3 linked regions of the Homo sapiens genome follow. The protein of the gene in region 2 interacts with the protein of the main gene of each other region in a pairwise test. Each region holds a gene or a part of one and is shown on either strand. Other genes may lie near its edges.

Region 1 (7,593 bases), on a different chromosome or scaffold from region 2:
AGTAGGGGTGAGAGGAGGAAGAGAAGGTATCACATTTAATGTGCTCTTACTATGGGCCAGCCACCGGGCTTGACTTGTCTGATACATTGTTAGATCCTTGCCATAAATCTGAGATCAGGCATTTCCGTTCCCACATTCCAGAGGAAGAAATAATAACAATCATATTAACATTGCTGAGGTTAACATAGTGCCCACTGCATATCAGGCAGTGGACTAAGCACACATTTGACCCTCAGGACAGCCCATAACATGGGTACTATTCTGAACTCCACTTTATAGAAGAGGAAACCAACTGAGACTCAGAGACATGAAGTAACTTTCCCAAGGTCACCCAGCAGGACAGCAAGACAGCCAGAGAGCCAGGATTCGAATCTAAGCAGGGCTCTCAAGCCTATGGGCCTATGGGAGAACATTTCCCAAGGGATTTATGGGGGTGGATCCAGAAGGTGACCTTAGCGATTGTCCTTACATGCATGCAGTGGGGCCCCAGTGTGAAAGTGACGAAAGAGACCAAGTGACCAGAGGCACTCCCCTCCCCTCCACCCAAAGGACAGTTTGTCCCAGCTTGTGGCTTTTCGTCACTCTGCCTCTGACCTGAAGTTTAACATTTCATTCATAAGTTTGGAACCACAGACTTGGCAGCGTAGGAAGAACCCTCGTAGACCAGCTAGCTATTCAAATCCAATCCCCTCATATTACAGATGGAAGAAAACCCTGAAGCCGGAATGTGACTCGCCAAGGTCACAGAGCAGTTTTCTGTTGGATGAAGGAGCCGGTTTAGGGTCAACTACAGATCATCTTGTGCTGTAGTTATCAAATGTGGGTGCACCTCTGAATCACTTGGGGAGCTCTCTAAATACACAGATTTCCACACTCTGCTTTGGGAGACTTGAACTGGACTTAGGTTTGCAAACAAGGACTGGAAATTTGAATATCCAGTATGTTCCTCAGGTGATTCAGATGGCACAGGGCCATGACAGCATCTGCAAGTCGGAGTCCAATGTCCCTCTTTCATTTGATAGTTTGGGATACTGGGACCCACCAGGGGACTCGCCCAAGGTCACATAGCAAGCCAGTGGGGCTCTAGTTCAGACTCTGTGGTCTGAAGCAGACTGCTTGTGGTCAAATTTGAAAATGGGCCAATGAAGCTAAACAAAGGGGTTGCCATGATTTTCCCCAGCTCTTGGTTTCCTTCTTGGATCCAAATTAAGACGGAGGATGATGTACATTTCCGAAGCTTGGCAAGGCGGGAATCCAAGAACTGAACTCCCAAAGGGGAAAGGAAAGGGCAGGAGGTTAGCTTGCACGCCCAGTGGGGTTTTCCCAGAGGTGAGCTCCGGACTCCAGGGATGACATCAGACATTCCAGCCAGCCCTAATATCAAAAGCTACCTGTGTTTTCTAGTTCAGCAGAATGGGTAGGCAGGGCCTTTCCTATTGGGAGGAGATGGGGTGGAGTGGGCCCAGCTGTGACGTGAAGGGAGCAGAGCCCAGGAAGAGCCACGCATTCCAGCATCTGCAAGGAAGACAGCTGCCCTGGGTATTGTCAACCTCTGCAGCCCTTTTCTAAGCCTTTCCTCCCATTTCTCCCTAATCCCTCACCCCAGGGCTAACTGAGCAGAGAGATTCACTGCCCCTTTTCCACTTCCTGCTACTCCACCACCTATTTTACTATCTCCCTTCCTTTATTTCCCTCTCCCTCCCTCCCTTCCTCCCTTCTTTCCTGTTCTTTTATTCTAAAATGGCATCTTGGCTGGACACAGCGGCTTATGCCTGTAATCCTAACACTTTGGGAGGCCAAGGTGGGAGGATTGCTTGAGCCCAGGGTTCAGGACCAGCCTGGACAACATAGGGATACCCTGTCTCTACAAAAAAATAAAATTAAATGAAAAATCAAAAAAGCCAAGTGCGGGCCAGGCATGGTGACTCATGCCTATAATCCCAGCACTTTGGGAGGCTGAGGCGGGCAGATCACTTGAGGTCAGGAGTCCAGACCAGCCTGGCCACAATGGTGAAATCCCATCTCTACTAAAAATACAAAAATTAGCTGGGCATGGTGGCACACACCTGTAATCCCAGCTACTCAGGAGGCTGAGGCATGAGAATCGCTCGAACCCGGGAGGCGGAGGTTGCAGTGAGCCAAGATCATGCCACTGCACCCCAGCCTGAGCGACAGAGCAAGACTCCGTTTCAAAAAAAGCCAGGTGTGGTGGCACATGCCTGTGGTCTCAGCTATTCGGGAGGCCGAGGCTTGGGCCTGGGAGTTTGAGGGTGCAGTGAGCCATGATTGCGCCACTGCAAACCAGCATGGGTGACAGATTGAGACCCTGTTTCAAAGAACCAAACTAAACCAAACCAAAACTAAACTAAAAGTCATCTTGATGTTTGGAGTCAGTTGTCCTGAATTTGAATCTCAGCTCTGCTCCCTGTGAGCTCTCTGACCTAGAGAGTCACACCACCTCCCCCCAAGCCTAGTTTCCTCCCCTATAAAAAGGGGACAATAGCTATATTTTCAGATTGTGAGAATTAAACAAGATCATGTAGGCACTTAAGAAACAGATGTTTTCTCAGAAACACTAGATCATGTGCATAATCAGTGAACTAGAGGAATTTGAATACATATTTGTTGGACTGAATTGAGGTGCCTAAAAGAATGGTTGAGCTGGAAAGCACCTAAGAAATCTTTGGGCCTTAATAACTCCCCAACTGGAGTCCAGGGGAACTGTTCAGGGTATTTCCAAATGATAAGGACAATCGCACACTCTCAATAAAGTCTCAAGTTTCTTTACTTTTGTCTGGAATTGTATCAGCTCAAGGTGATAACACGGCTACCACAAGCTGTTCAGAAATTCTGATTGGCAGTTACATGGCTCTTTGATACGTTTTTTTTTTTTTTTTTTTGAGACGGAGTCTCGCTCTGTCGCCCAGGCTGGACTGCAGTGGCGCAATCTCGGCTCACTGCAAGCTTCGCCTCCCAGGTTCACGCCATTCTCCTGTCTCAGCCTCCCGAGTAGCTGGGACTACATGCGCCTGCCACCAGGCCCGGCTAATTTTCTGTATTTTTAATAGAGATGGGGTTTCACCATGTTAGCCAGGATGGTCTTGAACTCCTGACCTTGTGATCTGCCCGCCTCAGCCTCCCAAAGTGCTGGGATTACAGGCATGAGCCACTGTGCCCAGCCTAAGTTTTTTTTTTAATGAGAAAATAATTACTGGAAGGTAGATTAAATGGTGGAAAACGTTAATCATGTCCAACTCCTCATTTCATAAACAGGGAAGCTGAGGTTTAAAGAAGGAAGTGGCTTGCTGGTCACACTGGGTGGCATAGCTGGCCCTAAAACCCAAATTCTTTTCCTGGAACAACTTACTTCCCGTCTTTCCACTTCAGAGAGGGGGAACCTAGGATCAATGAAGTTGATGGGTTTTCGTCTGCTGGAGTAGGAATAAGTGAGTTATCGATTTGCTCTTGCTTTTTCTGTTCTTAACTCATTCAGCAAATATTTACTGACTGTCCACTATTCGGATTTGGAAGATAGATAAAACAGTCATGGCAGCAGAGAGGGTCAGGATTTACTCCTATGTGCGACTTCAGAACCTGTGCCTTTTTCCACTGGACACCCACATTTTAAAACACCCACTACTCTGCCTTCTAATATAGTTCATCTGTGTCTCAGGGCAGGGGCTGTCTTATATATACATGTTCTAGCCTTCCTGCCACCGAGTAGGTGCGAAATCAATGTTGTAGTGTTGAGGAAACACTTGAATTTTATTTATTTATTTATTTATTTATTTATTTATTTAGAGACGGAGTTTTGCTCTTGTTGCCCAGGCTGGAGTGCAATGGCGTGATCTCGGCTCACTGCAACCTCTGCCTCCCGGGTTCAAGCAATTCTCCTGGCTCAGCCTCCCGAGTAGCTAGGACTACAGGCGTGCGCCACCACGCCCCGCTAATTTTGTATTTTTAGCAGAGACGGGGTTTCTCCATGTTGGTCAGGCTGGTCTCGAAACACCGACCTCAGGTAATCCGCCCACCTCAGCCTCCCAAAGTGCTGGGATTACAGGCGTGAGCCACCGCGCCCGACCAACACTTGAATTTTAATACTTACTTTGCTACTAACTGTGTCGTTGAAACAGTATGTTGCTTTCCTTCTCTGGCCCTTAGCTTAACTATCTGTACAGCGGGAACATTGGCAAACTCCTACGTGGAGGAGCTTGCAGGTCCACTTCAAGTTATCAGACTCTAACTAGGAGAAAACATTGAGAATTTAGGCTGAAAATAACGACACAGTTTATCACCTCGTTAATTCCCAAACATCATTACCGCGTCCTAAGCCACCCCACTTGCCTCTCCCCTAGCCGCCTTCCTTTAAAAAAAGAATTCCCCTCTAGAGGGCGCGCAAGCTCTGCGGCCTTCGTTCCTCTCTTCCGTTTGCCTTCACTCTTCCTTCTGCGCATGTGCTCAGTTCGCTATCCGGCTGCTTGTACCTGGTTCAGGAGGTTCAGGCAGAGGTTGCACCCACTACGCCTGCGCAACCTCAGCCCCGCCCCTCCGCTGCTTTCCCCGGAAACGTTTCTTTCCTACGCAGCCGCTCCTGCCGCCGTGGTCGCTGGAGCTTTGCCTCTCTAGGCCGGCAGCGCCTCTCCTCCATGGTCCTGTCTGTCAGCGCTGTTTTGGGAGCCCGCCGGTGAGGCCGGGCCACGCTCAGACACTTCGATCGTCGAGTCTGTCACTGGTGAGTAGACCCCAGAGGAGCTCGTGTACGGGCGGGGGCCGCGCAGGCGGAATGGGCTGGATTTCCCCTCACTCTGAGAATGGGTCTGTCTGCCCCGCCTTCCCCCTGACTCTTGGAATGGGCTCACCCCTTGGTTCCAGTCCCTCCTCCCGGGCGGGGCGACGTTGCCATGGAGACAGGCCGCTGGCTGAGGCCCGGCTCGTGTCCCTGCAGGGCATGGCGGGTCAGTTCCGCAGCTACGTGTGGGACCCGCTGCTGATCCTGTCGCAGATCGTCCTCATGCAGACCGTGTATTACGGCTCGCTGGGCCTGTGGCTGGCGCTGGTGGACGGGCTAGTGCGAAGCAGCCCCTCGCTGGACCAGATGTTCGACGCCGAGGTAGGGTCCCCGGACTGGGGCGGGTGGGGTCTCGGCCTCCCCGAGTAGGCTTTGTGGTCCATCACTACTGTGCTGTAGACGTGGCTGGGTCACCTTCTTTCTTTGTAGCCCTGGGAAAGGGATTTCACCTTTCTGAGCCTCAGCTGCCTCATCCATAAAATGGAATGACAGCAGAGGCTGATTAGTACAAAGAAAAGGGCCTGGATGTTAATACAATAAACACGTCTGTGTTCCAGGCAACTCTGATACATTTCCTTTCTGATACTCTGGGAAAGTGACTTGATTTCTCTGAGCTAGGTTCTCAGGTGCCACATCGGAGAGAGGGGTGGATAAAAGAGCATTCGTGCGGGTACAGTGGAAACTGCCTGGACTTTGGGGTCAGACAGGCGTCCGTTTAAGATCCACTTACTAGCTGTGTGACCTGGGGCAAATGTCACCTCTGTGAACTTGTTTTCCTGTCTTCAAAACCATGAGACTAGTTGCAGAGAGGTCGTGGACTGCAATATAAAGAGCATGTGCTTTGGGTTCAGAAAAGCAAGGGTTCAGTCTAGGCCTAAACATATAAAACTAGCTGTGGGACCTTGGGCAAGTTGCTTCCCCTTTCTGAGCCTTTTCTGAAAAGTGGGCCGGATGCTCCTACCATGTTGCCCTCAACAAAATGTTACAAGGCCCAGAGGGGTTTAGGAATAAGAAGGTACTTTGTAAAGTGTAAAGGAGGCCTATAAGTTGTTACATCTAAGAGGCAGCTGTGGCGTGGTGATGAGCACAGTTCTTTTTTTTTTTTTTTTTTTTTTTTGAGACGGAGTCTCCCTCTGTCGCCCAGGCTGGAGTGCAGTGGCAGGATCTCGGCTCACTGCAAGCTCCGCCTCCCGGGTTCACGCCATTCTCCTGCCTCAGCCTCCCAAGTAGCTGGGACTACAGGCGCCCGCCACTACGCCCGGCTAATTTTTTGTATTTTTAGTAGAGACGGGGTTTCACCGTTTTAGCCGGGATGGTCTCGATCTCCTGACCTCGTGATCCGCCTGCCTCGGCCTCCCAAAGTGCTGGGATTACAGGCGTGAGCCACCGCGCCCGGCCGAGCACAGTTCTTAAAGCCAGGAGACCTGGGATGGAGTCCTTGCTCCTGCTGCTTGTTCTCTGTGTTAGCCCTTGGGCAAGTTATTATCCAAAAAGTGATAAGAATTAAAAGAAGAAGAATGGCTTTGTGAGGTTTTTTTAGGGATAATATGAGATTATGTATGTCAAAGACCTTTCTTTGTCAGCTGAAAGTGTGGTGCAGATGTTTGGCATTTGATAGTATTGTGTTGGATAGTGGAGGTTGCACACCCACCATATGCCTAGTTGTAGTCTCGTAGGAGACTCTATGCTCCTGGGAAGAGCTGTGGGAATGCCAGGCTTTGTTGAAGAGCCATATGATGCACACAACCTGAGTTCTAGCCTAGGGATCAGCAAACCTTTCCTTTAAGGGTGAAGTAGTAAGGATTTTAGGTCACAATTATTCAGCTCTGCCATTGTAGCACAGAAGGCTGCTATAGACAAATATATAAGTGAATAGGTGTGGCTGTGTTTCAATAAAACCTTATGTACAGGAGCAGATGCCAGGCCTATGGAGCCATAGTCAGCTGAACGCTGTTCTAGACTTTACTCTTGTTGTTTATTACTTTGGGCAACTTAACTTGTCTGAGTTTTTACGTCCTCCTTTGTAAAATGAGAATAATCCCTTTCCACCTGCTGTGAGAAACAAATGAAATCCCATAATGGATGTCTATGAAAGCACCTATTGGAAATAGGCTGCCGTACAGATGTAGGGAGGTATTATCTTCTGTGCTCTGGGAAGAATGCTTGTTCCTTAGGAGGCTTGCTGAGATCCTGGGGCTCTGCCAAGTCACTTCTCCAGTATATTTCCATTTGTGATTCCCCCTCAGATCCTGGGCTTTTCCACCCCTCCAGGCCGGCTCTCCATGATGTCCTTCATCCTCAACGCCCTCACCTGGTGAGTATCACCAGTTTTGCTATCCAGCTTTTGGGCTCTTAGTGCTGGGACTAACTTCCTAAGTTTGAACATGAGACAGGCTGGCACTTGTTTCTGGGGAGTGGTGGAGTAAAGTGGGTGACAGAGGCCAGTTCTGGGACCAGCTGTATAATGGGCCTCCTTCCATTGCTGTTTTGACTTACCTGGAAAGCTCTTATGTCACTATGTTTGTGCTGCCTGCAAGACAACTTCCATCTCAGATAACTTCCCTGATGTGGAGTGAGCTGAGAAAGGATTCGACCGAGAGGCAGGAGAACTGGGTTCTGTTCTTGGTTTGTGTGCCATTGGCCAAGTTACTTGCCATGGGCCTCAGGCTCCTCTTTTGTCCATGAGGGTTTGGACTCAGTGATGTCTAAGGTCACACGTAATCATTGCCTGTCTCTTAAGAGGCAGTTTAGCATAGTGGTCAAGGTGTCAGGCTCTGGAGGCAGACTCATTTGGCATTGAACCT
Region 2 (7,022 bases):
ATGATTTCGTGGATAAAGTAGTTTATCTTAAAATTAGCCAGTGAATACATAACGCTTCAGTGTGGCAAGCCAAGGAAGAGAAGTATTGCTAAATGATTAACAGCTTAGTTAATAAAATCAGTTCTGCCTTTGCCCTTGGACGTTATAATATTGATGATTATTCCTGTAAGAAGAATGGCCAGGAAAGTTGGAAAATCTAGTCAGTATGCATATGAAAAGTTGATTAGCTACCCTCTAAATGTAAATCTTAAATTGGGGAAGGTAGGGAGCTATAGAATCTTAGAAGATGGAGGTAAATCTTTAACTGGTATCTCAAGATGTTTTATTAAGTGAAAATAAGCAAGTAATATATACACACTTCTATATATAATAGTGTTTTTTTAGTTTTTTTTAACTGTGATCCCCACAGTAAGAATATATTTTACATCACAGCTAAGTACATTATACTTATAAATATGATATAATAAAACTAAAGTTTTATAAAACTATATTCATTCTCACTGAGAGCAAAGCATTCTGATTCTCTACTATGATCAATTATTATTTTTAATGCTAAGTTGACATGATCATCTACTAATGGTAGATTTCACCCACAATTGTGAAAACATCCATTTAGCATGACCTCTTTGTGCTCAAAAGAGGAGAAATCTCTGGAAGTATATTGAAGAAATGTTACCATTAGGTTCCTTGTGATGCGTGGCTTGGGGATTGAGGTTGAGGGAAGTAATGAGATTTTTGCCCCTTTTTTTTAATTTTTAATACTTGAATTTTTTTTTACTGTAGATATGAAGTACTGTAAAATAATAATTGATAAAAGTAACAAGCGGAAAAAACTGTCTTGTCACTGTGGCATTCTGTTCCCTGATATGGCTCTTCCTTGTCTTACCTCAAGTCCTCAGTTGTTGCCCAGACAGGATCTCTTCCTGTCTGCCACCTCTCATTCCAGTTAGTTCCACTTTTTTCCCCACTGAGATTTCAGCTTCACGGAAAGAGTTTTTATGGAACTAAGAAAAGAAGTTCAGAAAACTGGCACTTCATTTATAAAGTGAACTCACAGAATTGTGTCTTTCCTTTTGATCTTCAAGTTAGATCTAGCACAGAAGTCACTTCTGTGAATTAAATTCTTTTAACCTAAGGAACTGAACTTAACCTTGTCTGTAGCATATTCTTTGAAAAGAATTTATTCTTTTATGAAAAAATACTGTATAAAAAACATTTTGAGTAGAGATTAATCAGTATCTTTTTTTTTCTTAATAGGTTTTCAAATGGAACATTTTGATGCATCACTTAGTACCTATTTCAAGGCATTGCTAGGCCCTCGAGGTAAGGTGGTTTTTGGTTTTGCTTACCTTCTGCAGCATCACTCCCTGCCTATAGTCCCTTGTAAATATTGCATGAGGAGATAGTAGAAAATGTTAGCATTTTCTATGATAAGTCTAAAACTTTATCCTGGATAACAAGGAATTTGGAGAAGTCTCTGACAGAGACACCTGCTGTGGGTGGTCCTCCGTTGACTTTAACTGGAGTTTAAAAATATGCTGTAAAGCTTGTAGCCTGAGAATACTATAGATTTCACCATTATCAGTGGCATTTTTTTCTCAATTCTTGGCAGTCTTTAAGAAAAACTAGTTTCCAAAATGCAGTGTTGCAATAGGAGTTTAAAACCTTTCCCCTTTTACAATTTTAAGGGCTTTTTAAGGTCTTCTCATTTTGTATCATGTTAACTCACTGGTAAATATGCACCTGAACCTTACTTGCTGTATCTTTTAGAAAGTAAATCAGCTTCATATTGCCTTCTTTTGATGTCATCTGTAAAAGTCTTTTAAAGTCTTTTGTATAAAGAACTTCTTAGGCTCACAGAAAAACTAGAAATGGCTTTTAAACAGACAAAAAGAATCTCAGTTTCTCATGATTTTTAAAACACAAAAGAAATAACAAAAGGACTTAGTCTATTAACATGGCAGAGATGAAATAATAGGTTTCATGTCACCTATGATAATAGTGATAATAGTGAAGGCGTGGAGAAAGAGTACAACCTCTCTGAAAGGCTGTTTTGCCTTCTGTTGGAATTAAAATGCACATGCCCTTTTGCCTAGCCATTCTACTCCTAATACTTTATCCTGTGGCTAGCCTTGATTAGTTATGCAATGATACATATCAGGATGCTCATTACAGCATTGTTTTTCAAGGAATCATCTGGATGCCTGTCAGTAGGGGAGAGGTTCTGTAAATTAGTGTATGGCCCATTGAAAAGAACAAAAAAGAATAAGTTAGATCCATCTGTATGTGCTTGGGTTGGGATAGTGCCTTACTTTAGCTGTAAGGGACAAAAAATCCAACTCTAAATGGCTAAAATAATAATAATAATTATTAGCTTGCATTACCAGGTGGAGCAATTCCGTAGTTATTTCAGGGACTGTATGATGTAACCAAGGATCCTTGTTCTTGTCATTTTCTACTTTGCCACTTCCAGGTATCAGCAGCTCTGTCCTCAGAATGGGTCCCCCACTTCACACAGTTGTAGGATGGCTACAGCAGCTCCAAGCAGCACATTCAGAGGAAGAAGAAAAAATGTTTCATTTGTGTGGTTTTAAGCATAAAGAAGTTGTTTCCCAGAGCTCTTTGCCAGCTGTCATCCCTCAAAACTCACTGGCCACAATTGCTTCACATGCCCCTGCCTGAACCAGCCACCAGAGGGGGTTAGGACCACCACAGATTGACTAGATCCTAAGGATTCTCTACCTGGGGCTGGAGTTCGGGTCAGGTGCCCGGGAAGCACTGTGCGGTGTGGGAGGATGAATATGTGCCAATTTGGAAAGATGAGTATTTGTGGGAAAATGAATAAAGCAAAGTGTAAATCAGAGGTTTAAGTTAAAATAGGGAGATTTGTGTGTATTTATTGTTTGTGATATATATGTTCATACAAAATAACAGTCTGATGTTAGTTGCTAAGTGGGAACTGGTTTTCTTAAAATTGACAGCCAAGGCCCAAAGCTGAGAACAAAAGGTGTTAAGCATCCCCTTAAAGTCCCTGGGGCCAGCCATTTCCCTGAATGACTTCTAAGCACAACCAGTTCTGCCGGACTGACAGTAACACCCTCCGTGACCATAGCATAACTAGTGGGGAGGGTGTGGAGGGCATGTCCCTCTGAAGCCAAAGCAAGCCAGCCATGAGAGAAATGCTGGGAAAGTTTAGTGTGTACAGTGCAAGAAAGGAAGACTGACTGACAGTTCCCCACGTGGACATATGCTTTATTGAGCCTGTTCTTGTTCTGTGAAATCAAGGTGAAAACGACTGGAGAGAGTAGCAAGATGGTCCAGTCTGGGAGGGGTCAAAGAAAGGGCAGAGCCGGGTGTGGTGGTTCACTCCTGTAATCCCAGTACTTTGGGAGGCCAAGGCAGGTGGGTCCCCTGAGGTCAGGAGTTCCAGACCAGCCTGACCAATATGGTGAAACCTGGTCTCTACTAAAATTACAAAAATTAGCGGGGTGTGGTGGTGTGTGTCTATAGTCCCAGCTACTCTGGAGGCTAAGGCAGGAGAATCGCTTGGACCCTAGAGGCAGAGGTTGCAGTGAGCTGAGATCACGCCACTGCACTTCAGCCTGGGCGACAGAGTGAGACTCCGTCTCAGAATAAATAAATAAATGAATAATAAAAAAATTAAAGAAATGGCAAAGGCTGTCCTCCCAACTGCTGCTTCTCTGAAGACGCAGTAGGTGAATGCTGCATGTGCCTCATGTTCTGGAGTTGTGAGCCTTGGCGGGTAGTTAAGATTGAGGAGCCACAGGTTTTCGGGGAACATCATAGCAGGGTTCAAAGGGGAGCATGCTTTTCAGAGGTAGCTTCCTGGGGTCAGCCAGAGTATGAAGCTGAATCTTTCAGGGGACACATAACACTTAGGGGCTCTGGCTGCCAAGGAGTTTCCCGCCATCCAAGAAGAGGTTGTCAGTTTGCTGCTGGCGGCTGACCTGTTTCCCTCTCCCTCCTCCCTGCCTAAGAAAAGGAATAGGGGCAGGAGAGGCCCTTCCTATACCAGTATCTCCTCTGGATCCGCCTAGGTCTTCGCTCTCATGCTACTACTCCTCAGTTTGTTAAATACTGCCCTTTAAATAGGCATTTATCTGATCATTGCTGCTTCACCTTCATGTTTTGTTTTGTTTTTATTTTCATTTTTGAGACGGAGTCTCACTCTGTTGCCCACGCTGGGGTGCAGTGGTACGATCTCAGCTCACTGCAGCCTCTTCCTCCCAATTTCAAGCGATTCTCCCACCTCAGCCTCCCAAGTAGCTGGGATTACAGGTGTGCAGCACCATGCCTGGCCAATTTTTATATTTTTAGTAGAGATAGTGTTTTGCCATGTTGGCCAGGCTGGTCTTGAACTCCTGACTTCAGGTGATCCACCCGCCTTGGCATCCCAAAGTGCTGGGATTACAGGCATGAGCCACCACACCCAGCCCTTGTTTTGTTTTTAAATCATTGTCCTCTCTGCTGTTGACCATTACACTCATAGCAAAGGCTGCCTTTCTAATTAGTGCCAGTTTCACTAACGTGGCTAAGCAGCACGTTTTCTGAGTCTGCATGTGCTGGCCACACTTGCCGACTGACACACAGCTGAGATGGAGGACTTCAGAGTTCAATGACTGCCATTTCTTGGGTTTTATCACCCTATGTGTAATCTGGTATACCTGGTTAATAAATCCAATTAATGGGAAGTGTAGCCTTCTCCTTGTTTTCTTCTTAAGTTCTTTGGAAAGAATATTTGTATTATTATTTTACTGAGCAAAAATCATGAATAATACATTGTTATTCAGAGCATGTAACAAGGAGCTTCACCTTGTTTGATATGTATTGAAAATCCATGCCTCCTCTCCTGATTGCTTTATTGGAATTAAGAACATGAATACCAGGTGACTTTTATATCATCATGGTTAGAGAAATTTTTTCAACGTTTGAAAAGTTGTGAATGTTTTTATATATCATTAATTTTTTTTAATTTTTCAGATACTAGAGTAAAAGGATGGTTTCTTCTGGACAATTATATACCCACATTTATCTGCTCTGTCATATATTTACTAATTGTATGGCTGGGACCAAAATACATGAGGAATAAACAGCCATTCTCTTGCCGGGGGATTTTAGTGGTGTATAACCTTGGACTCACACTGCTGTCTCTGTATATGTTCTGTGAGGTAAGTCAAAGGTTAACACAGTCTTCCTTTCACATAAATGCACTCATATTGCTGTCCTAAATTGTATTCCTAAATGAGGAAAGGTGGCCGCTTGGGGTGTAGAGACAACTGGGCAAGCAAGTATCTTAATGCGTTATGAGTGTGTTTTAAAATCGATTTTTCAAAATGTCAGAGTTGTTTGTACAAGTATGCCTTCTAGAATATCTAAAATAGAAGCCTTTGTTATTGATTCTTCTATTATGTTTCGTATGATATTCAAAATTAAAGTATTTTCAGAAATACTCTCATGCAAGCAAAATACAGAGTGGAAAATGAACAAAATGTGAAAAACACATGTGAAAGCATTTTATTATTAAGCATCTAATAAGTGCCTGCTTCTTGTTTGAAGGTAGGGGAGGAAGGAAGTGGGTGGCACTTGTGTTTGGTATGTTTTGTGGCACATCACCCTCTCTGATTGGATAACTTGTCAAATCTCAGTTGTTTTTTAAAAGCTAAGAGGAGTGTGACTGGTGAGATCTGCATTTAGGTTTTGAATTGTCTGTCTGAGTTCAGGCCCAGTTATTTTATATCACTGCAATGTTGAAAATCACATTTGATGATCTCAAAGGCAAATGTTATAGCTTAAAAATGAAAGAAAAATCAGAATCAACCCTTCTCTTCTCCCTATTTTGAAGGGGTAACACTATAGCCTTTAAAGCTAAAAGGGGGAGGAAAGCTTCCCTCTGGTGGTAAGCAGTTTGTGTACATTTTTCCAGGAAAGCCTACCCACTTTTCATTCTTACAGCACCAACCTATTTCTAACTCTTCTGGAGAATTAAGCCCTGGATAAAACCTATACAGGCACTCCTGTATAGGTTTTCAGGGTTTCATTTTGGTTTTAGTTCTTCAAGGAGTAGTAAAGAAGAAGGTAGAGGTGGGAGGAAGAGGAGAGATAGAAACATGAATCTTAAAATTAGTGTTCAGGGGTCAAAATGAATTCTCCATCAGCCTCAGGCCATGATGGTGTCTCCCTGTCTACGTGTGGTGGTGTGCAGGAGTGTGGGCGTGTGCAGGCATATTTGATTATCAGAGGTGTTGCAGCTGTGGGATATCTGTGTCTTGTTCTCCCATGTATGTTTCATAAGCCAAGGTACAGATATTCTGAATAGAATGGTAGATGTTCCTAGCATTACTTTTATGCTTGACATGCCAAGAAATGCTTACAACTCCTTTTTTTGCTTTTTTTTCTGTCCTATTCTAGAATGAAGTCAGTTTAATTAGACTCCAAGATGGAGAGTTCAGGACTGGAGCCAGGGGAAGTGCACAGGAGTGACTCCTGGCCCCAGCACTATGCACATTTCTGTGTTCAAGGGACAAAACCACAGCAAGCTGTCAGGTTTCTGAGTGAACTGCTTACTTTTCCATAATTGATAGATAATACAGCCATGTCTTTAAGAGAACTCTTACAGAGTTTATTATTATACATGGCAATATTAATAGAGAAAAATATTTCATGTGATTTTTAGAGAACTTAAGCATTTGCCTTAAATGTTTCTTAAGCCCTAGAAATATAGCTATAATTTCATTATTTATCCTCTCTTAAACAGATGATTCCCTGGTAAAGAGAAGAAAAACACTGTATAAAGTACAGCTGTGTGCATCTGAGTGGATGTGGGGGGTTCTGAACACATTGTAATAGAAGGTACAGATTTTCCTCTGATAGCTTGGTGAGAAGAGAAGACTTTGAGCAGTGACTAAGCACTGAATACAGAAATTTAAGAAATATACAGAATAGGGAAACTACATTTTTAACTCACAGTTTAGAGTACATAGAGAGGTAATAGACAAAGAGGC
Region 3 (7,022 bases), on a different chromosome or scaffold from region 2:
TTGAAGTTATGTGCAAAATGTTGGATGTGTGTTTATATGCATTTTTCTGGGGAGAGGAGTCTTTGGCATTTATCTGATTCTTTTAGGGATTTATGATCCTGAAAACATGAAGTCCTTAGGAAAACGGAAGTGGGGAGGGGTCTGCTGAACTATTACAGGGCAGTTCAAAGCAGGGTGAGCACCCTTCCCCCACATCTGACCCACCTCGCCGGTCTCAGGTGCTGCGTTGCCAGCTCTCTGCTGAGGAGGTGCGGTTCCCAGTCTCTGTGACCCAGCAGTCCCCCGCTGCCGTCTCCATGGAGACCTACCACGTCACTCTGACACTGCCACCAACACAGGTAGAAGGGGATGTGGGAAACTGAGTTGGGCAGGGGCGGTTCCATTGGCTCAGCTTCTTCCATTTGTTTCCTCTCTGGGATGGAATTCAGGAAGGGAGAGTCCTCGAATTAGGAGTCCTTGGGTAAATGGGGCAAGTCAGCCCAGTCACTTTGTTCCTGTCTGTAGTTGGAAGTCAACCTGGAGGAAATCCCTGGTGAGGGGCTGCTCATATCCTGGGCCTTCACTGATCGCCCAGATCTCAGCCTAACGGTGCTTCCCAAGCTTCAGGCCAGGGAGGTAAGGAGGCAGAGCTGGCAGAGAAGAGGCAGAACGGGGAGGGAGGCAGAGGTGGGGGATCCACCTCCTTGTTGTTCCCTTCTTCTCTCTGCAGAGAGGTGAAGAACAAGTGGAGCTCTCCACAATTGAGGAACTGATCAAGGATGCCATAGTCAGCACCCAGCCAGCCATGATGGTCAACCTCAGGGCTTGCTCTGCCCCAGGAGGCCTGGTGAGTTGGCACCCAAAGCAAAAGATTTGCATGCACCTTGTTCCTAGGGTGCTATGTCAGGATTCTTGCTCTTTGGACCTTCTTCTGCTCTTAGGTACCCAGTGAGAAGCCACCCATGATGCCCCAGGCTCAGCCAGCCATCCCCAGACCTAACCGGTTATTCCTACGGCAGCTTCGGGCATCTCACTTGGGAAATGAGCTGGAAGGTGAGAGCTGGAAGTGGCTGCGGGACTGCCAAGGCTATGGTTGGTTGCAGATGCTCTCTGCCCCTCTGCCAAGGGTACAGCCTCTTTATTCTGCAGTGACTTCCCATCTCTGATCTGAGCATCTTCTAACTTCTGGTTCATCACAGGCACCGAGGAACTGTGCTGTGTAGCTGAACTCGACAACCCCATGCAGCAGAAGTGGACCAAGCCCGCGAGGGCTGGATCCGAGGTGGAGTGGACAGAAGACCTGGCACTGTAAGGAGTAACCCTGCCCCGACCCCATGCTCCAGAGCAGAGAGGATCAAACCTTTCCAGCACAGTCCTTGCAGGAATCAGCTCTGTTTTCAGTAGCCTTTGGCGTGAGCTCCTATTGTATGCCAGGCCCTGGCGTGGGTCTTAGGGATACAGACTTGACCAAGATACAGCCCCCACCCCTGGGTCAATGACAAGCTTGAGGCAGAGACAGGTGTACATAAAGAAGATGGTAAAACCGCTCCAGTTGAGGTTTATGTAATGTGCCGTCAGAGTGCCTAGGTGGGGGGGAGATTAATTCCCATGAGGGAATAAGGATCAGAGTAGGCTTCATGGAGGAGATGACATTTAAACCACACTTTAGAGCAAGAGTAGGATTTCATCAGAGTGTGAAAGTATTCTCGGCAGAGGGAAGAGCTGGAGCAAATGAAAGAGGGTGGCTTGCAACTGAGAGACTGGCAAGACAGGAAGAGCAGGACCAGGGAGGATTTGAATGCATAGCTGAGAAGCATGGTTTCCACTCAGGCCCTGTCCCTTTCTCTTGGGACGAGAGAGAATTTGGAGGCCAGGAGAATCTGATTGGAGCATTTATGCCGTTTTATTTATGTACACAGCTCTCTGCCTCTGGCCTGTGATCCACTCAAGTGTGGGTTCAGCTTGCTAATTTTCTCCTTCCTGCCCCATCTCCTCTTGTCCCACAGGGATCTGGGCCCCCAGAGCCGGGAGCTGACCCTCAAAGTGCTGAGGAGCAGCAGCTGTGGAGACAGTAAGTGAGGGGTGGGAGGGGCACCCCTGGGTGGGTACAGAGTGGGGTCTGGCCATGGGCCCAGCTCACAGTGCCATCCCTTTCCCCAGCCGAACTCCTAGGCCAGGCCACACTGCCTGTGGGCTCCCCCTCCAGACCACTGTCTCGAAGACAGTTGTGCCCACTCACCCCAGGGCCAGGGAAAGCCCTGGGACCAGCAGCCACCATGGCAGTGGAGGTGAGAAGCTGACCCCTGGGGTAGGTGGGAGGACACAGGGGATGGGCAGTCTCCGAGGCTCTGTCTCTTCTCTCTCCCACCCCTGGGCAGCTTCACTATGAGGAGGGCTCTCCCCGGAACCTGGGTACTCCCACCTCCTCCACTCCACGCCCCAGCATCACACCTACCAAGAAGATTGAGCTTGACCGGACCATCATGCCCGATGGCACCATTGTCACCACAGTCACCACTGTCCAGTCCCGGCCCCGTATAGACGGCAAATTAGGTAAAGAGAAGGAGCCTGGGAGCCCAGCTCTAGCCAGGGGCCCGGGACTGCAGACCCAAGGCAGGACAGTGAAAGAGGAGAGAGCCTTAATTCCAACTCCCCCTGTTTTCAGACATTCCATTCCAGTCCTACCACATCTTCCTCCCAATCTTTGTCTCTTCCAAACTTTCCCTTACCTCCTGCCATTTCCCCAGCAATTCCTCTCACTCTGCCACCCTTCTGGATCCTCCTGCCCCTCCTCATACAGGACTGTTGCACTCCTACCTTCCAGCTTCCCCTCTGGCTTTTCACAGGTGTCCTTAGCCCCAGCTGACTATAATTGTCCATCCTGCTACCCTCAGCCCTCCAGCACCCCCTGGGGTCCTCCAACAAACCCAGAGGCCTCTGTGGCATTTCTACCCCACTCAGTGGGCCCCCATGGCACTTCTGCCATTATAGGGGCCCCACTGAATTGCCCCAACTTCAGGGAGCCCCAGTACCCCCTCTGTCCCCGCTCCATATTTTCATAGCATCTCCCCACACCTTCAGCAGGCCCCATGGCACTTTCCTACACTCCCATTAGCTCCTGGGGTGTCTTTTAGTCCCCACGGCATCTTCCTAATCACCCTTGTGATTAATCACCCTTTAATCATTCTTGCCCTCTGAGTCACCCAAAGTCTGCATCTCAACAAAGACAGTAGGGGTGGGGGCCACTCTGAAGCAACTCCCAGCTCACTGACCCTCCCCCACCCACCAGACTCCCCCTCCCGCTCCCCGTCCAAGGTGGAGGTGACCGAGAAGACGACAACTGTGCTGAGTGAGAGCAGTGGCCCCAGCAATACCTCCCATAGCAGCAGCCGTGAGTGGGGAATGGGGTGCATGAGTGTGGGTTGGCCCTGGTGCCCCAGCATCAAAAAGTACTCTGGGTGGGATAGGAGGAGTTCCAATCCAAGAAAGAGCCAGGGAGAAGTCAGGTTATTCATTCTCTGCACCCCTAGCAGGGGACAGCCACCTTTCCAACGGCTTGGACCCTGTAGCAGAGACAGCGATTCGCCAGCTGACAGAGCCCAGTGGGCGGGTGGCCAAGAAGACACCCACCAAGCGCAGCACTCTCATCATCTCTGGTGTTTCCAAGGTAACAGGGCTCTGGGGAGAGGAGCTGGGATGGGGAGAAAGCCCTAATGGGTCGGTCACTCCTGCCCATTAAAACCCGTCCCTCCTGCCAGGTGCCCATTGCTCAGGACGAGTTGGCGCTATCCCTGGGCTATGCGGCATCCCTGGAAGCCTCAGTGCAGGATGATGCAGGGACCAGCGGAGGCCCCTCTTCACCTCCCTCAGACCCACCAGCCATGTCTCCAGGACCGCTAGATGCCCTCTCTAGTCCCACAAGTGTCCAGGAAGCAGACGAGACAACCCGTTCGGATATTTCTGAGAGGCCATCTGTGGATGATATTGAGTCGGAAACGGGGTCCACTGGTGCCCTGGAGACCCGCAGCCTCAAGGATCACAAAGGTAGGGGGACGTTGGCAGGGTGCCCCTCATCTCTTCTTTTATACACATATCATGACCTGGGGGACCTCGAGCCAGTGTGCCTTCTCCTTCCTCCCCTAAGAGATAGCCGGATTCCCAGCCTAGTTCAGCCAAGCTAGCCTAGAGGGGGATCTTGGTGCCTTGGTTCCTGGCCTAGATCTGACATGCTTGTGATAGGAAGGGATGCCAAATTATTTCCCTTTACCTCCATTGTTCTTTCTTCCTGAGTCTAAGTGCCATTTTTCCTGCCCTTTAAAAAAAAATTATAAAAATTTATTCCTAGGCAGGGTGTGGTGGCTCACACCGGCACTTTGGGAGGCCAAGGCGGGTGGCTTACCTGAGTCCAGGAGTTCAAGACTAGCCTGGGCAACATGGCGAGACCCCATCTCTACTAAAAATACAATAAATTGGCTGGGCGTAGTGGCACACACCTGTAATCTCAGCTACTCAGGGGGCTGAGGAGGGAGGATTCCTTGAGCCTGGGAGGTTGAGGTTCAAGGAGGTTGAAGCAGTGAGCCGTGATTGTGCCACTGCACTCCAGCCTGGGTGACAGAGTGAGACCCTGTCTCAAAAAAAATTTTTTTTTTCCATGGCTGGGCACGGTGGTTAATGCCTGTAATCCTAGCACTTTGGGAGGCCAAAGCGGGTGGATCACAAGGTCAGGAGTTCAAGACCAGCCTGGCCAACATGGGTAAACCCCATCTCTACTAAAAATACAAACATTAGCCAGACGTGGTGGCAGGCGCCTATAATCCCAGCTACTTGGGAGGCTGAGGCAGGAGAATCGCTTGAACTGGGGGGTTGGAGGTTGCAGTGAGCCCAGATCATGACACTGCACTCCAGCCTGGGTGACAGAGTGAGACTCTGTCTCAAAAAAAAAAAAAAAAAAAAAAAATTCTTCCCTTTCAATCTGCACCCTCTCCCCAATGAGTATAAGAAATCCTACCCTTGGATTATCCATCTGGCAGCAAGACAGGCAGTGACCAGTGGTGGTAGTTCTTCTAACTTTAAAAGATGAGAGGCTCACCCTAAAACATCTTCATTCCTCTACCAGTGAGACTATCAACCATGGATCTATCTATCTATTTTTTAAGCCTGCATCACTTCTTGAGATAATGAGGTTTCTACCTCCAAAGCCTGCTGGGTGAGCACCTTGCTCATTATACTGGTTCTGAATTTACCTCTTTGAAGTTTCTAGATGCACCACTTCCTGCTCACAGCCTGGAATTCGGTTAACAAGTCAGTGTCAACCTACCTTTCCCTTCATGATTTATAGACTTTTGGGAGTACCTTCTGGTAGCTTTTGTCTTCCCATAGGAAAGAGGCCCAATCCCAGTTTGTCCTCACAAAGCGGCCAGCTCCGTGATATCTCTTTTGCGGGCAGAGTTAAGATTGTACACAGATCCCCACAAGTACCACGATTTTTGCCTCAGGAAGGATAAAGCACATGTTTGTTTCTGCTTTCGTTTTCTTTTTTCTTTTTTTCACGAAGCCTTATGGAGAAGTATGTTTCTGCTTTCTTTCCTGAGGAAGCCTGGCTTCTGGGCCACGGGACTGATCCTGTCCACATCCTCTTTCCCTCCATTCTCCATCGTGTCTCTGCCCCCGTCTCACCCCACCCCGTGCCCCTCTCTGCCTCAGCTTCCCCTCTTCCCCTGCAGTGAGTTTCCTGCGCAGCGGCACTAAGCTCATCTTCCGCCGGAGGCCTAGGCAGAAGGAAGCTGGCCTGAGCCAATCACACGATGACCTCTCCAACGCAACGGCCACGCCCAGTGTCCGAAAGAAGGCCGGCAGCTTTTCTCGCCGCCTTATCAAGCGCTTTTCCTTCAAATCCAAACCCAAGGCCAATGGTAACCCCAGCCCCCAGCTCTGAGGACCCAGCTCTGAAAGGGCACGAGTTCTCTCAGCCCATTCCCCACCTCCCCTTCCATACCCCTTCCTGGATCTCCAGTGCCTGGGCCAGGAAAGCCCTCTGGGTTCCGGGAAGCCCCGTCCACCCTGGGCCATGGGGCCGGTTGGAAGGATACTTGGAACGGGAAGCACATGAGAGGTGGGCACCCGGTGCCGAGGACATGGACGAGGGACTGGTGGCTGGGAGGGAGAGGAGGGCCCTGTCCGGCATGTGTGGGTATTCCCCAGAAGCATTTGCCTCCTGCTGAGCCTGGTCCCTGAGCGGAGTCCCAGGGTGCTCAGCTCTTCAGCTGACCCTTCTTCCCTTATTTATTCTCTTTTCTATTTATATGTGTGGCTTAGGACCCTCCGTGAACAGATGATAGAGGGCATCTCTCCCAGGTGACCCTTCTTTTCTGTCCCAGGAGGGTGGGTAATTCCCTTTGGGATGGGGCTCCCACACCTCCCTCAGGTCCCCACTCAGACCAGCACCAGTGTCTGCCTCTGAGAATGTTGGCAGCTCACAGAGAGCAGGGCCGGCCCGGGATGGGGGGCAGGTACTCCCCACCTTCCTGCCTCCCCTCCTGCTCCTCATCCCTCCCTCCCCCTTTATTACCGTTTTTTGTACTTGATGCCTTCTCTGTGAGCAGTGGCTCTGTGGGAAGGAGGGAGCCGGGAGCCTGGTGGGAAGCCTTCCCCAGAGAGATGGCTTTAGGGGCTTTATTTAAAGACTGTGATGATGGAGCCACGCAAGGCTGCACCTCTGTGTGTTGGGAGACGATGATGATGTCCATTGCTGTGTGATGGCTTGGAATTTAATTTATTAAAGTCAAATTGGAGTTTATAAACTGGACAACTGGTTATCCTTTGAAAGGCAGTAGGCAGCCAGGCTGTGACATGGATGGTGTGGGAGGATGAGACAGGGGCCCGGATAATGAGGTTGGGTAGATGACACACATTGTGGATCTGCTAAGAAGTTCCTGCAGGGAAGAAGGGGTGTGCAGAGAAAGGATGGAAGAGACAGGAGGCTCTGGAGTATGAAATTGTAGCAAAAAACTCAATCAACTAGTACAGGTTAGTCTTCATTCCCC

The links. The genes of interacting proteins can lie anywhere in the genome.
Region 1: the proteins of ELOVL5 (region 2) and SYS1 interact in binary tests that used the Homo sapiens proteins (3 or more experiments, as listed by UniProt).
Region 3: the proteins of ELOVL5 (region 2) and C2CD2L interact in binary tests that used the Homo sapiens proteins (3 or more experiments, as listed by UniProt).

Annotation. Positions count from the first base shown.
Region 1 is NC_000020.11:45,358,584-45,366,176, forward strand, and holds the start of SYS1 (protein SYS1 homolog), read left to right. Parts: upstream 1-4,572; 5' UTR 4,573-4,732; exon of another isoform or gene 4,733-4,785; intron 4,786-4,945; 5' UTR 4,946-4,948; coding exon 4,949-5,110; intron 5,111-7,035; coding exon 7,036-7,103; intron 7,104-7,593. UniProt on the Homo sapiens protein: Involved in protein trafficking. May serve as a receptor for ARFRP1.
Region 2 is NC_000006.12:53,289,943-53,296,964, reverse strand, and holds part of ELOVL5 (very long chain fatty acid elongase 5), read left to right. Parts: intron 1-1,257; 5' UTR 1,258-1,265; coding exon 1,266-1,323; intron 1,324-2,473; coding exon of another isoform or gene 2,474-2,682; exon of another isoform or gene 2,683-2,877; intron 2,878-5,001; coding exon 5,002-5,189; intron 5,190-7,022. UniProt on the Homo sapiens protein: Catalyzes the first and rate-limiting reaction of the four reactions that constitute the long-chain fatty acids elongation cycle.
Region 3 is NC_000011.10:119,110,343-119,117,364, forward strand, and holds part of C2CD2L (phospholipid transfer protein C2CD2L), read left to right. Parts: intron 1-218; coding exon 219-338; intron 339-504; coding exon 505-615; intron 616-709; coding exon 710-826; intron 827-920; coding exon 921-1,032; intron 1,033-1,178; coding exon 1,179-1,287; intron 1,288-1,985; coding exon 1,986-2,050; intron 2,051-2,139; coding exon 2,140-2,267; intron 2,268-2,357; coding exon 2,358-2,532; intron 2,533-3,268; coding exon 3,269-3,370; intron 3,371-3,509; coding exon of another isoform or gene 3,510-3,512; coding exon 3,513-3,646; intron 3,647-3,737; coding exon 3,738-4,023; intron 4,024-5,682; coding exon of another isoform or gene 5,683-5,702; coding exon 5,703-5,914; 3' UTR 5,915-7,022.